4 linked regions of the Homo sapiens genome follow. The protein of the gene in region 1 purifies or fractionates together with the protein of each later gene. This does not show direct contact. Each region holds a gene or a part of one and is shown in the gene's direction. Other genes may lie near its edges.

What was found. The genes of interacting proteins can lie anywhere in the genome.
Region 2: the proteins of HNRNPUL2 (region 1) and HTR7 purify together in Homo sapiens (tandem affinity purification; one large-scale study listed by IntAct). This does not show direct contact.
Region 3: the proteins of HNRNPUL2 (region 1) and AQR purify together in Homo sapiens (affinity purification with mass spectrometry; one large-scale study listed by BioGRID and IntAct). This does not show direct contact.
Region 4: the proteins of HNRNPUL2 (region 1) and HCN1 purify together in Homo sapiens (co-immunoprecipitation; one large-scale study listed by IntAct). This does not show direct contact.

Annotation. Positions count from the first base shown.
Region 1 is NC_000011.10:62,720,958-62,724,457, reverse strand, and holds part of HNRNPUL2 (heterogeneous nuclear ribonucleoprotein U-like protein 2), read left to right. Parts: intron 1-31; coding exon 32-167; intron 168-467; coding exon 468-544; intron 545-731; coding exon 732-871; intron 872-1,554; coding exon 1,555-1,645; intron 1,646-1,744; coding exon 1,745-1,857; intron 1,858-2,077; coding exon 2,078-2,341; intron 2,342-2,515; coding exon 2,516-2,638; intron 2,639-3,034; coding exon 3,035-3,163; intron 3,164-3,500.
Region 2 is NC_000010.11:90,855,240-90,859,520, reverse strand, and holds the start of HTR7 (5-hydroxytryptamine receptor 7), read left to right. Parts: upstream 1-1,481; 5' UTR 1,482-1,849; coding exon 1,850-2,388; intron 2,389-4,281. UniProt on the Homo sapiens protein: G-protein coupled receptor for 5-hydroxytryptamine (serotonin), a biogenic hormone that functions as a neurotransmitter, a hormone and a mitogen.
Region 3 is NC_000015.10:34,903,743-34,907,242, reverse strand, and holds part of AQR (RNA helicase aquarius), read left to right. Parts: intron 1-530; coding exon 531-698; intron 699-2,737; coding exon 2,738-2,907; intron 2,908-3,500.
Region 4 is NC_000005.10:45,262,881-45,266,380, reverse strand, and holds part of HCN1 (potassium/sodium hyperpolarization-activated cyclic nucleotide-gated channel 1), read left to right. Parts: intron 1-3,500. UniProt on the Homo sapiens protein: Hyperpolarization-activated ion channel that are permeable to sodium and potassium ions. Displays lower selectivity for K(+) over Na(+) ions.

The DNA of each region.
Region 1 (3,500 bases):
ACTGCTGATTTTCTTTCCCTCGTTTTTGTAGGAGATGACCAGGATAGTGAAAAGTCAAAACCAGCAGGCTCAGATGGTGAGCGGCGGGGGGTAAAGAGACAGCGGGATGAGAAGGATGAACATGGCCGAGCTTACTATGAATTCCGAGAGGAGGCTTACCACAGCCGGTGAGGGAAACAGTCCCTTTCGTTGAAGGGAGTGTCTGCTCTGATTTTGGTATACCTGGTATTGACTGGAGAGACTGGAAGGAGGGTGGATTCAAAATGGAATAGGTTTTTATAGGCATGAGTTTTAGATTGCATCTACCATGGAAACTCCTATTGCCCTTTCTCATTTATTGGAAAAAGCTGTCTGCTGGGATTTGATATTCACTGACAGTTTAAAATGGACATAATGTCATACACACACACCCCTCAAAGAAGAGGGCTTTGTTTACATTGTGTTTCTTTTCTATCTTACATATATAGCTCAAAGTCTCCACTGCCTCCTGAAGAAGAGGCAAAAGATGAGGAGGAGGATCAAACTCTTGTGAACCTGGACACGTGTATGTATAAGGCAGACAGACTGTGGTTTTTAACTAATCTCCTAAAAGTGATTTTGGAGATTAAAACTTCATAGCCTATAAATTCTATGAGACTTTGTATCCACTACAACAACTGGTATACTTATGCTCTGTTGGCGGCTTACAAGTATTGGACATTGGAGTAAACTGATTGCTTCTTTCTTTACAGATACCTCGGATCTGCATTTTCAAGTGAGCAAAGACCGCTATGGAGGGCAGCCACTTTTCTCAGAGAAGTTCCCCACCCTTTGGTCTGGGGCAAGGAGTACTTACGGAGTGACAAAGGGAAAAGTCTGCTTTGAGGCAAAGGTAGCTCATTAAGACCATTCATTCATTCATTCATTTATTACTGGATGCTTACGGTTCTTAGAGGGGGAAAAGAAGATTATTATCTCTTTTTTTTTGAGATGGAGTTTCGCTCTTGTTACCCAGGCTGGAGTCCAGTGGCACCATCTCGGCTCACCACAGCCTCTGCCTCCTGGGTTGAAGCGATTCTCCTGCCTCAGCCTCCCGAGGAGCTGGGATTACAGGCATGCGCCACCACACCTGGCTAATTTTGTATTCTTAGTAGAGATGGGGTTTCTCCATGTTGGTCGGGCTGGTCTTGAACTCCCGACCTCAGGTGATCCGCCCGTCTTGGCCTCCCAAAGTGCTGGGATTACAGGCATGAGCTACCGCACCTGGCTGGGGAAGAAATATTTTTTTAAAAAGACCGTTCATTTATTCATTAAGCTACTACCTATGTATACTGGACTTCTGTCCAATCAGGCTTTTATTAGTGCAGGTAGGTAAAAGCACTGTGCTTTAACAAGAACCTTAGTTTCAGTAACCAAGAAATTGATCCCTGTGGCTTTAAGTTCAGTGATTGTTATTCTGATGTTGAGTTGAGGTAAATGTCGTTTTCAGTTTGTATAAAAATCTTGTCCTTCGAACTCAGAGTTTGCTACTCAGTTGGTCACAATATCTAATAGTTCCCTTTCTGACTTGGCCAGGTAACCCAGAATCTCCCAATGAAAGAAGGCTGCACAGAGGTCTCTCTCCTTCGAGTTGGGTGGTCTGTTGATTTTTCCCGTCCACAGCTTGGTAAAGTTATTTCTTTAAGTTCCTCATTAGTGTTTACTACCATATTGCTTACTCTATGGGAAGTCCGGTTGTAGGTAACTAATTTGTTGACTGTTCTAGGTGAAGATGAATTCTCTTACGGTTTCGATGGACGAGGACTCAAGGCAGAAAATGGACAATTTGAGGAATTTGGCCAGACTTTTGGGGAGAATGATGTTATTGGCTGCTTTGCTGTAAGTGCTCCTGAAAGTTGTGGGTTATAACAAGGAGCGGATAGAGGGCACTGGGAATTCACTTGTGCTTCCCATCAACTGCTGGCTTTTATGCATGTGATGTGTGTGGCTCGCTTAGTTACTTTGTGCAGCAGTCTGTGTGAAAAAAGAATAAATTGTAAAGTTTAATCAACCCAAAGCCTCGTCAGCCAATAAGTGCTCTTGTCCCTTGTCATTGTAGAATTTTGAGACTGAAGAAGTAGAACTTTCCTTCTCCAAGAATGGAGAAGACCTAGGTGTGGCATTCTGGATCAGCAAGGATTCCCTGGCAGACCGGGCCCTTCTACCCCATGTCCTCTGCAAAAATTGTGTTGTAGAATTAAACTTCGGTCAGAAGGAGGAGCCCTTCTTCCCACCACCAGAAGAGTTTGTGTTCATTCATGCTGTGCCTGTTGAGGAGCGTGTACGCACTGCAGTCCCTCCCAAGACCATAGAGGAATGTGAGGTATGCCAAACAGTATACGAACACTGAGGTTGTATGCTTTGCAGAGGTGGGTGCGTATGCTCTCCAGGGTCTCAGAGCGTTACCAAACAGGAATGGGAGGATGTTCTTAAATTGGTTTTGATAAACATGACCCTCATTTATTTTTCATTATATTTCTGGTTCTGTTTTTTGCAGGTGATTCTGATGGTGGGACTACCCGGATCTGGAAAGACCCAGTGGGCACTGAAATATGCAAAAGAAAACCCTGAGAAAAGATACAATGTCCTGGGAGCTGAGACTGTGCTCAATCAAATGAGGGTAAGTTGCTGTTGGGGATTTGTCGGATACAGTATTTGGAGACTCTTATAACCTATCTTTAATGGAGAATTAGTCTCAAGTGTCTGAGAACAAGGGTCCCAGAAATAGAGAAATGAGATTTTTCTCTATGCGTTTTAGGTGGATTGATTTTTTTTTTCTTTGCTGTGTTGTCAAATTTCTGAAAGCAGATGAGATCTGAAATACATCCAGGTTAAGACTAGATAGAAATGACTACTGCAGGAAATGGACAACATTCACAGCACTGAAGAATGGGAATAGAGTGATATCATAGATTCAGTATTTGAAGAGGTGACATTTACCAATAACTCTTGGGCTTTAACTTGCAATATAACTTGTGTTTTGTTTTTTTTTTTCACTTCCTCTCAAACTAATCAGATGAAGGGTCTCGAGGAGCCAGAGATGGACCCCAAAAGCCGAGACCTTTTAGTTCAGCAAGCCTCCCAGTGCCTTAGTAAGCTGGTCCAGATTGCTTCCCGGACAAAGAGGAACTTTATTCTTGATCAGGTATTAATCTGATAAAATTGCCTAGAGTCAAGGTGGGATGTGTATATAAAGAGAGACTGAATTAAGGAGCAGAGTCAGCTTACCTAATTATGACCATCTGGTTGTGTGTTATGGTTGCAATGTTTTTTGAACTCAGAGGTACCCCTAATTAGTGTTTTTACTTGAAAATATATGGACCCAGGCTATAAAACATGTAATAAAGACAATGGAAAGAGTTGGAACTCATTTGAATTCCTGGCTCCACCACATTCTGGTTTGTGATCTTGGATAAGTCCCTTATCCTTTCTGAACCTCAGTTTCCCTGATGAGCAAAACAGGATAATACCTGTCATGTAGT
Region 2 (4,281 bases), on another chromosome or scaffold:
GATAACAAACCAAGAAAAGCGAAACAGAGAATAACTAACATAAGTAAGGTTGAAGAAATTTCCTCATCCATCTTAACTGTTAGATAATATTGCTTTGTGGCCTAGGTATTATATTCAACTCTTCCTCTGACTCAATGGATTGGTTTGCTTATCCTAGGCAGAGAGGAGCCTCTGAAATGTTGATCACAGCAAAAGAGCTGTGAACATTAGGGCTTTTTTTTTTTTCCATTAAAACTTTTTCTGAATGTGTACAGGGAAGAATATGGGCATAGTAATCAGATAAACTTGGGTTTGAAACATAACTATTCCTTACCAGCTGATTGCAAGAGCTAACAACCTTCCCTATCTGGAAAAACAGAGCTAATACCCACCTTGAAGAATGAAAGTACTATTCAGCACTCTGATCAATATACTTTGAGGTTTTTATTCCTTTTCTTCTTATTTATAATCCGCTAGGGCCTAACAAGAAAAAACAGATTTGATTATTTTTAGAGTCTTAAACTACAGAAATCACTGCTGGCTTCCAATGAAACCTTCAAACAAAATGGAATGAAGCAAGTCTCACAAATAATAAAAATCAGCCGCTCTGACAGGGTTTGGATACCAAGGGGAATTTTAGCCAATAGGTATTAAATCAACATACACCTCCAGGATTCCTTTATAGAAGAGTATAACCGGTCATTTCTTTGCTTATGTGTAAGACTTCCAGAATGCTACGGGAAAATTAACTCTCTTTTCAATATATTAGGCTTTGAAGTCTAAATATAAAGGCAATCAGGGTCTATTTTCAGAGCGGAGAGGACTGTTTCTAGACATCCAGGAAGGATTAGTCCAAATGGGTGTAACCCCCTTGGAGGCCTTGTCCCCAGAGCATCCTCATCTCCTGGGTGCCAGGGGCTTAAGGAATCCCCCTCCCTCCTTTTTTTCTTTCTTCCTCTTCTCGGAGCTCCCACCCTCACCCCATTCGGCTGCTTCTTTTCCATCTTCGCTTCTTCCCATAAGCGGTCAAAATAGAAAACGGAAGTACCTATTTGTTGCTTAGTGTAGTGCTCAGAGACGTTTTTTTGGTTGTTGTTTAATTAAGAAAAATAAAATCCCCCTCTAGGTTCTTCATTTCGCAATGAGCCCAAACATCCGCTGGCTCATTAGGCCTCTTAACAAAAGAAAAATGCCCCCACTGAACTGTGGCTGACTAGTGTGCGGAGGCTGGGGTCGGCTGGAGGGGTTCTAAGTATCTATCATGCGGCAAGGACAGCTTCCCGGGCGAGGGGACCCGGGATCCCGGGAGGCGCGTGCAGCGCCGCCCCCTCACAGTAGGGAGGCGCGGGAGAGGCGGCGGTGCCTGCCCAGCCCGGGTATCCCGTCCCAGGAGCGCGAGGGAGCGGGCAGCGGCCGGAGGCGGCGGCGGCGGGGACGCGGCGCGGCTGCCGCAGGGGAGCGGCGGCGGCGGCGGCGGCGGCGGCGGGCGCGAGGGGCGGGGCGCACTCCGCAACTTCTGCCGCTGCCGCCCGGGCGCTCTCGGCGCAGCCGAGCTGCTGCTGCGAACTGTGGAGCTGCCAGCGGAGCCCAGCCCGAGCTCCCTCGACTCCGCGCGTCCCAGGCGTCCGTCGGGGGCCGAAGCGCCTCCCGCAGGGAGTCCCCGTGAGGCCGCGCTGCCGCGTTACCCGCAGCGGCCGGGGGTCCGGGGAGTGCGGGGCTCCGAGACAGAGCCAGGCGCCCCCCAGCGGTCGGCGCGGGCCCCATGGCTGGGCCGGGCGGAGCGGAACCGGTGAGGTGAAGCCCCGGGGCCGGCAGCCGGAGGCGCGTGGCCGGGGCGCCGGCTCCATGGGCAGCGGCACACGGCGGCGCGATGATGGACGTTAACAGCAGCGGCCGCCCGGACCTCTACGGGCACCTCCGCTCTTTCCTTCTGCCAGAAGTGGGGCGCGGGCTGCCCGACTTGAGCCCCGACGGTGGCGCCGACCCGGTCGCGGGCTCCTGGGCGCCGCACCTGCTGAGCGAGGTGACAGCCAGCCCGGCGCCCACCTGGGACGCGCCCCCGGACAATGCCTCCGGCTGTGGGGAACAGATCAACTACGGCAGAGTCGAGAAAGTTGTGATCGGCTCCATCCTGACGCTCATCACGCTGCTGACGATCGCGGGCAACTGCCTGGTGGTGATCTCCGTGTGCTTCGTCAAGAAGCTCCGCCAGCCCTCCAACTACCTGATCGTGTCCCTGGCGCTGGCCGACCTCTCGGTGGCTGTGGCGGTCATGCCCTTCGTCAGCGTCACCGACCTCATCGGGGGCAAGTGGATCTTTGGACACTTTTTCTGTAATGTCTTCATCGCCATGGACGTCATGTGCTGCACGGCCTCGATCATGACCCTGTGCGTGATCAGCATTGACAGGTAAGGGCCGGACCGCCCCGTCCCAGGCTCCGGCTGGGGACCGGCTGGCAGCTCAGCCCCGCGCGCTCGCCTTTCCTGGGAGGATCAAGCTAGACTTCAAGGCGGGATGAAGGGCTGCGCTTAAAACACCGCTCCCCCCAATCCACCCTACACCAACCAAACTTCGGTTACGGCATAGCCTATGTACATCTTTAAAAGAAAAACCGGAAATGTTCTGGTTTACTGTAGTGACGAATTTAAGACCAAAGTTAAGAGTATTTTAAGCCTTAGCATTTCCACCAGCGGGTCCCTTGCCTTGGTTTTTGGAAGGAAGGGATTTGGTGCTCCCTGACTTGATCAAGCCTTGCTGTGAGCCTTAAAGAGTCATTAAAAAATAATAATAATAAGTCGGAGAAAAGCCACCTTGCTTACCCCATTGTGGGAGCTACTCCCTAGGCCAGTAAAAGGACCTTGGATGGTTCTAGAATTGGGGTTTGTATGTCTTACACATTGCATCTTTATGATGGTCAGTTCGGAATCGCATTCTTGCTTGTGGAAGTCTGGTTTCAATGTTTGGTAATGCTGTCTGTATCTTGCGAGCTTGCTGACTGGAGCCTTCCTCCAGGTCTGAATGGCTGGTTCTAGCCTTTCATCATAGCCCTTGGGAACCTTCTCTTGAGAACTCCCCCACTGGAGTAATTGAAACAGAGGCTGACCATCTGTCAGGGATGCTAGGGGAAAAATTCCTGCCTTGGGTGTCATATTGAACTAGGAGACCCACAGGGTTTCTTCAGGCTGTAAGGTTACAGGCTTTTGAAATGGAGCTAGTCTTTGACCCTTGAAATATTATGCAGTTGACAACTTGAAGTATGGTCTCAATCCTCTTTGGCCTAAAACAACTCTATTTCACTTGAAACTGAAATATGAGACCTTAATATTCACACTCAGAATTTTGCCGGTGTTTCAAGACTAGTATCCTGTTGTGTTTAATGATACAGAGAAATGGTTGCTTATTTTCTTAGTGGATCTATAGAACCTTTATATGTGTAGATCTTTCAGCCTAGGGGAAATAATTGATGCCTCCACACTTAAAATGACAGTGCCTCAAAGGATGGTCTAGCATGAAACTGAGATTTTCCTTTTTTTCTTCTTGAAAACACTGCTGTTTGTGGTTTGCTGGTACTTAAAATGTTCTGCTGTATGTATTTTTTGCTTGACCAGGGTTTATAATTACTAAATAAAGGAAATAATAGAAAAGGGAATATTTTCAAGAAGAAAAACACATTGTAGCTCCATTTAGCTAACAATTTAGGTTATTTTTCTTTAAATTGATTCTACCATTTTATATATCATGGTAGAAGCTGCTGACAGCAAACAAGGAATTACTTAAGAGCAGAGCATGAACTGCATATGTGAGAATATTAGCACCAAATTTGGCAGCTGAAGTTCTGAATTACAGTAGTTAAGAATGACAAAACATATGTATTTACAGTCTGACTGTGGCAACTGGAATTAGGAGAGTGCACTCAATACACATAGTAAGTGTATACATGAATTATAAGCACAGAAATCTGACTGCTCAGCCAACCAAAACAGAGCATCCTGCATGAATGGAGTCCTTTTAAATGGAACTTAGTGTAATAAAACAAATAACGGTTTATGCTGCAAGTACTGTATTTATAACCATTTTTTAAAATTTCACAGTTGATAAATGATACATAAATAATACCTTGTGCTAATTTGTCTCCTAAGACAGCCAGTGTTTCTCCTCTTCTGGGCTACATTGAGGTTTGGCTGAGATCACCTTGTGATTCCTATACATGAGCTAAAGGCATTCTCCACTCAGCGTGCATGTGTGACTTAGCATCGGCAGGCATGTCCTGAATACTGAGAAGACATTAATCCTTCTTGGCA
Region 3 (3,500 bases), on another chromosome or scaffold:
ATATATTCAGCCATCTTTCTCAAGATCATACCTGTAAACAATACTTTTTTGCCTTGATTAATTATTCTTGAGTTGACCTGTTTTAGTGAAATACAATTAGGCTGTCTTTGGAATGACACTGATAGATAGTTTAAACTGATATTAAAAACCTGCTAAATATGCTATAGATGGATTATATGCCAGCCATATTTTTGGTTACTTATTAAGATTGTTAAAAATAAGAATGATGACGAACATCCAATTTTGGAGCTGTAGCATGACTTGGAGGGCTTATTCAGTAATATATTCATGGCATGAATGTTTCTAATTTTAATATAAAGAAGTTTTCATTTCAATTAATGCTATGAAATATTGAGTATTAAAGATTATAGAAAAGCCCATAATTGTGTTACAATGCGATAATAATCATTGGTCACTCAACGGTATCTCTCTACCAAAGATAAGAGGTAGAGAGGCAAATAAGAATTTGCCTACAAAAGACTGAAAACAATGAAATTCTAATAAATGAAAATGTCTTTATATCTTACCAGGTCTTCGTAAGCATGATGTATGCTTTTTAATTACCGTACGTCCCACAAAACCTTATGGCACTAAGTTTGACCGGAGGAGACCTTTTATTGAGCAGGTTGGCCTGGTTTATGTCAGAGGCTGTGAAATTCAGGGCATGCTGGATGATAAAGGACGTGTCATTGAAGATGGTATGGTGACCTATATTTTTGAAAGAGTATGTGTATAGAATGATAAATTTCTTTGCCTTTTTCCCTTTTTGCTTCTTAGGTAATATTTTTTAGTTCTTTTACCTACTAAATTGACACAAAGGATTTTGTATCAAATATGTGTAGGGTACCTACCGTGCAGTTTTAGATATAGGTAACATGGTTTCTCACTGTGTCACACAGGCTGGAGTTCAGTGGCACAATCTCGGCTCACTGCAACCTCTGCCTCCTGGGTTCATGCGATTCTCCAGCCTCAGCCCTGCTAGTAGCTGGGACCATAGGCACGTGCGACCATGCCCGGTTAATTTTTGTAGAGATGGGGTTTCCCCATGTTGCCCAGGCTGGTCTCAAACTCCTGAGATCAAGCACTCCACTTGCCTCGGCCTCCCAAAGTGCTGGGATTACAGACATGAGCCGCCACCACACCCAGACAGTTTCAGAACTTCTATGTTAGATATTGGAAAGGACAGGATCTTTTTCTTTTTTTCCCCCCAAGACGGAGTTTTGCTCTGTCAACCAGGCTGGAGTGCAGTGGCGCGATCTTGGCCCACTGCAACCTCTGCCTCCCAAGTTCAAGCAATTCTGCCTCAGCCACCCCAGTAGCTGGGATTACAGGTGCCTGCCACCGCGCCTGGCTAATTTTTGTATTTTTAGTAGAGACAGAGTTTCACCATGTTGGCCAGGCTGGTCTCGAACTCTGGGACAGGATCTTTTGAAATCATCTTTATTCAAAGCTTTTTAAAATATGTAATACTTTACCATATTTTTTTTAAGAAACACTCTAAATATCTCTTACAGTTGTCCAAGCTTTTTTGTGTTCAATGATATATTTTTTCTTCTTAAATTTGACTATTTTAATTCATTGTAGTGGTGGTTCTTAATTGGGAACAATACTGTCCTGCGTTTGAAAATGCATAGTGATATTTAGGTTTTCAAATGACCGGGATAGAGGTGAGGAATGGCAGGCTCTTGGCATTAGGTAACTGTGAGCCAAGGATGCTAAACATCTGAACAGAAATAAAAGAAGGAATTATCCTGCATAAGATGCCAACTTTACCGCATTTAAAAACACTGCTTTACAAAATTAGTCAGTTATTTGATTTCTTATGTGTATCACTTATTATCCCTTTGAAATTCTTTCTTCTGTTGTCCTGACTTCCTTTATAATACTTATTATTAAATTACAACTGCATACATGTCTAGTGCTTATTTTACAATTTGGTTGTTGTACTTCTTTTGAAACTTTAGTCAGTTTATGCTATCTGTGGTTTAGAGATTATATCATTGCTAAACTGCTGATGATTAAGTTATTTATCTCTAGAATGAGAGGAAATAGGAGAAGGGAATGGAAAATGGATGGAATAAGCATAAGGCCACATAATGGAACCAAAGTTCGAGGTCTAAGACCCCCCCTTCCCCCCACCCCCCCCAAAAAAGAGGAGATATGTCAGAGAGGAAAGAAAAGGCTCTGGGCTTTCAACCATTAGTATCCTACATTTCTGTGTATGTGAAATTTCTTTTCATGCTGGTTATACTAGGTATGGAATGTGGAAGGATGAGAAAAGTGATGAACCTCTGTCAAATTAAGGAATTAATGAATAGAAAACTATGCCTTAAATTCTAAAATACATATATTTAATTAGAAAATATTTATTGAATACTTACTATATGTAAGGCAGTAGTGGGAGCTATGAGTGACAAAAGTAAAGATAAGTTCTTTGACTTCTAAGTACTCCTATTTTAGTTGAGTGTGTGTACAAATTATTGCAAGTCATGGTGTTGCATCGTAAACATTACATGACTGCTATGGAAGGAAATAGTAAGAATTTAGAGAAAGAAGAAAATACTTTCAGCATCTTAGAATTTGAAGTGGGTGAGTGGAGGGCATTCTACTTTGGGAAGAATGGTTGGAGTTAAGCCTGAACCATTTACTCACCATTTCTAGAAAAGAAATACTGTTAACTTATTTTGATATTTGAAAAATACATATTTTATTTAACAAACTTTTTCAAATTGTCCAGGACCTGAACCCAGACCCAATCTTAGAGGAGAATCAAGGACATTTAGAGTGTTTTTGGATCCAAACCAGTATCAACAAGATATGACCAATACTATACAAAATGGAGCAGAGGATGTGTATGAAACTTTTAATATAATAATGAGGAGAAAACCAAAGGAAAATAACTTTAAGGTAATTTGGGGGTATGTAACTAAAAGTACTATGTCATAATTTAAGTAACTTTTATGACATAAATACAGAGATATTTGGTTAGAGGAAGATTTGTTAAGAAAAAAATAATGACTGCTTTTATTTTTACTATAAGCAATCCTCTTAAACTTTTAACAAAATGATGAAATATAAAAATTTAAAGAAATTGATTTCTTAAATCTATTTTGTCTTTTGAGGAGTTTAAAAACTTAAAATATAGATGAATCCAAGTGTTATTCTAAAGGTCCACCTCCTTTTTTGCTTTTTGTATATTAGGTATTCAGTTAATGCCCTATTATGAAGTGAAGAAAACTTGCTTACTTGTTTACTGGGGCTTCTTTTTTGAATCAAAAGTAGGTATACTTCCAGGTCACTTTAAGAATACAGATATGGAATCTCAAGGCTCTGAATTACTATACGTTATAATATATTTTTACTCATTAGTAGGAAAGGGAGGTTTGGTGGCTCAAAGTTCTACTTTTAGAATAACTTTGTGGGGAGAAGAGTTTTAGTAAAGGATAGTTTTAAAAACCATTATTTGAAACTATATTATAAAACTTAAACATTGAACAGTT
Region 4 (3,500 bases), on another chromosome or scaffold:
AGGAATTGAAAATTTGCACATTTAAATTAATCTCAGCAGAGACATAATAAAATGTTTGTAATATAGACTCAAGCAGAAAAAAAAAGCCTTGATAGTAATGCCCTACATAGATGCTTTACCTCGCAAACATCAACATATTTTAAAGTCTTTTCTGCTACCAAATAAAAAAATATATATATACAACCATTAGGCCTTATTAGTTATGCTAGTTTGAAGATTTGCATAATTGCCATAGTAAAGTTAGCTTGGATTGGCTTGCTGTTAACATTCCTAGATATCCTGGAACATTATGTTGTAAGGTAGTATGCATTCATTTTCCACACCTAAACCCTCTTTGCCACCCTCCCCTTCTCTACTTTTTTTTGGTCAGCTCGACTCTGCTCAACCTTCCTCTCTCTGTTTAGATATCACCTCCCTCTAGAAACCTTCTCTGACCTCCCACTCCCTACTAAGCCCAGTTCCTTGGATGCATTCTCCTATAGCCTCTGAAGCTCCCCCATCACAGCACTGCTTTTATTACTGGCTCTAGAGATGCTAAATTTGTCAATGTAGAGCTCATGTTTAATTCACCATTACATTCACAGTACCTAGTATACAATGAATATTTGTTGAAGAGAGGTAGGAAGGGAGGAAGGAATAAATGAACTCAAAAAAGATGGGGCTGGGATCACTTGTGATAAACAAGGAGGTACCTCAACTGCTTCATTCTTATTAAAGGTAAGGACTTCAGATTGATAAATTGTTATGTTGGCTTTTTTTCTGCACTTCACATTCACATCTTCCTTTCTCTCTATATTAGTAGGACAGCAGACTGCATAGAGATCTGAAAATAGATTAGAAGTAAAGGCAGTATTTGGACATCATCATTAGATATAACAAACGTATTAGAAATTCATATTGAAATCTTAGAGATTTAACAAGACCTACTCATTCAGGGAGACAATACCCACAAAAGAAGTAGGCACTCCTGAAGGCATCCTTACTTAATTGGAAAATAACTTCCCTCTTTGTAGTGTGTGAGTGTTTATGTTAGAGACAGAGACTAATTTCTAAGCAATGAGTTTCTTCCTAAACCAGCTAGACATCCTTAGAGAAAACATTAAAATCAGGATATTTCACTAGATAATTTCTGTTAATCTGATACAGCTTCACTTTCATCTAACTTATTGCAGTTAATTTTTTTTTTTTTTTAAGACAGAATCTTGCTCTGTTGCCCAGGCTGGAGTGCAGTGGTGTGATCTCGGCTCACTGCAGCCTCCGCCTCCCAGGTTCAAGCAATTCTCCTGCCTCAGCCTCCTGAGTAGCTGGGACTGCAGGTGTGCACTGCCACGCCCTGCTAATATTTTGTATTTTTAGTAGAGACGGGGTTTCACCATGTTGGCCAGGACGGTCTTGACCTCCTAACCTCATGATCCACCCATCTCAGCCTCCCACAGTGCTGGAATTACAGGCATGAGCCACCGCGCCCAGCCTGCAGTTAATTTTTATAACAATATTTACATGAAATGGTTCGTAATCAATACAGGCAATGCAATTTCTAATAGGCACTAAGCAATTGAATTTTTGATCTTTATAACATAGTAAGAGTGTATTAAAAGTTACATTATTTTTCCCAAGGTTAAAGATACTTAGATTAAGATATTTTGACTGTTCACATAATCAGAAAGAAACATTATGCTTCTCGGTTTTGTGGCCATTGCATATAGATGTATGCTGCAGTTAGTTAAGCAAATATGCTAAATAAGCATTTATATTTATTACTAATGTAGGAGTTTTTGTTCTTTGGGAAATTAGGACAGTCTGTAAGTAGGGAGAGGTAACTATTTTGGCAGTCATTTAAAATGATTGCATTCCTAGCAGTCAATGAAATTACAATACATATTTATCTTCAAAAATATATTTTGTTACCTTTAATGTGTTAGTTTATTTAGCAATATCGCAAATTGATTCACTTTTCAGTTACCATATTCACTTGGAGATTAGTGTATCAATGATGCCATAGAAAAGTCACTACTTTCCCCTTCTTTCACCAATCCACTATTCATTCTAATAATTATTATGCCAGAGACTGTCTAGTATTGCAAACCACTCAGAAGATGATGGCAGGAAAAGCTGTATTGCAAACCACTCAGAAGATGATGGCAGGAAAAGGTAAAATTTATTGAGGTCTTAGAGGGAGCTGAGAGCCTGCAATGCACTATGCCCTTGGTCCTCACAACAACCATTCAGAAGAGGAAAGATCATAAAGTCAGTCTCAGTCTTGGCTGCATTTAAGAATTCCCTGGGGAAGCTGGGCGTGGTGGCTCACGCCTGTAATCCCAGCACTTTGGGAGGCCGAGGCGGGTGGATCACAAGGTCATGAGATGGAGACCATCCTGGCTAACATGGTGAAACCCCATCTCTACTAAAAATACAAAAAATTAACCGGGCACGGTGGCGGGCACCTGTAGTCCCAGCTACTCAGGAGGCTAAGGCAGGAGAATGGCATGAACCCGGGAGGCAGAGCTTGCAGTGAGCTGGGATGGTGCCACTGCAACTCCAGCCTGGGCATCAGAGCGAGACTCCGTCTCAAAAAAATAAATAAATAAAATAAAATAAATAAATAATAAATTTTAAAAAAAGAATTTCCTGGGGAAATTTGCTTTTAAACTACTGAAATTCAGAGCCCATGTATGATTATTTAGATTTAATTGGTAGGGAACAAGTGGATGTTAGTATTTTTTAAAGCTCCAGAGATAAGAAAAATATCCAACTAGGACTGAGAATGACTGGTGTAAGACACTGGGTCAAAAGCAAAACCTGATACAGTCCTCCTCAGATTTGCATTTGGGAATCACCTGGGGATCTTAGTAAAATGCAACATCTGATTCAGCAAGTGGGGTCAGGCCCAGGAGGCTGAGTTTCTAGCAAGCACACAGATGAGACAGGGGCAGTTGGTTCATTTTCCATAGCAAGGATGTGCAATCACTTTTTTGTGTATATGGTCTTTCTCAGCCCTGTTACCTGCCAACCATGTTTTTTTTTTGTTTTCCTGGGCACTGTTCTTAGTCTTCTCATGTCCTGATCTCCTTTCAGGTAAAATGAGATTATGAACACACCTATCTGACAGGGTCGCGGGTTACATAAAATCATCTACCTAAGGTCTTTTGTAGAGTGCTTATCACATAGTACGTGTTCAAATGTTCTCGCTTATGTCTCCATGGTCCTTTCTTGAAAAAGTAACTTTAAAATCAAATGTTGATTCCAAGCCCATCCTATTCCAAAAGCCCTTTCTTCCCCCATTCTTCAAGGTGGCCCTCATGTTAAATATCTCCATTTCTTCTGTAAAGTGGCTCTTTGCCATATTACAGGCCGTTCAACTTGAGTAGAAGGTAAGAGTTCCCAGAGAAATACAGGAAGTGTGAAAGGTAGGAGCCACATTGGTATTTGGTGTGTAAAGGTGAGTGACTGGCTTTTTAAGCCTCTCCTGTGAAGCACAGCTATACTTCTGTTTGCAGGAG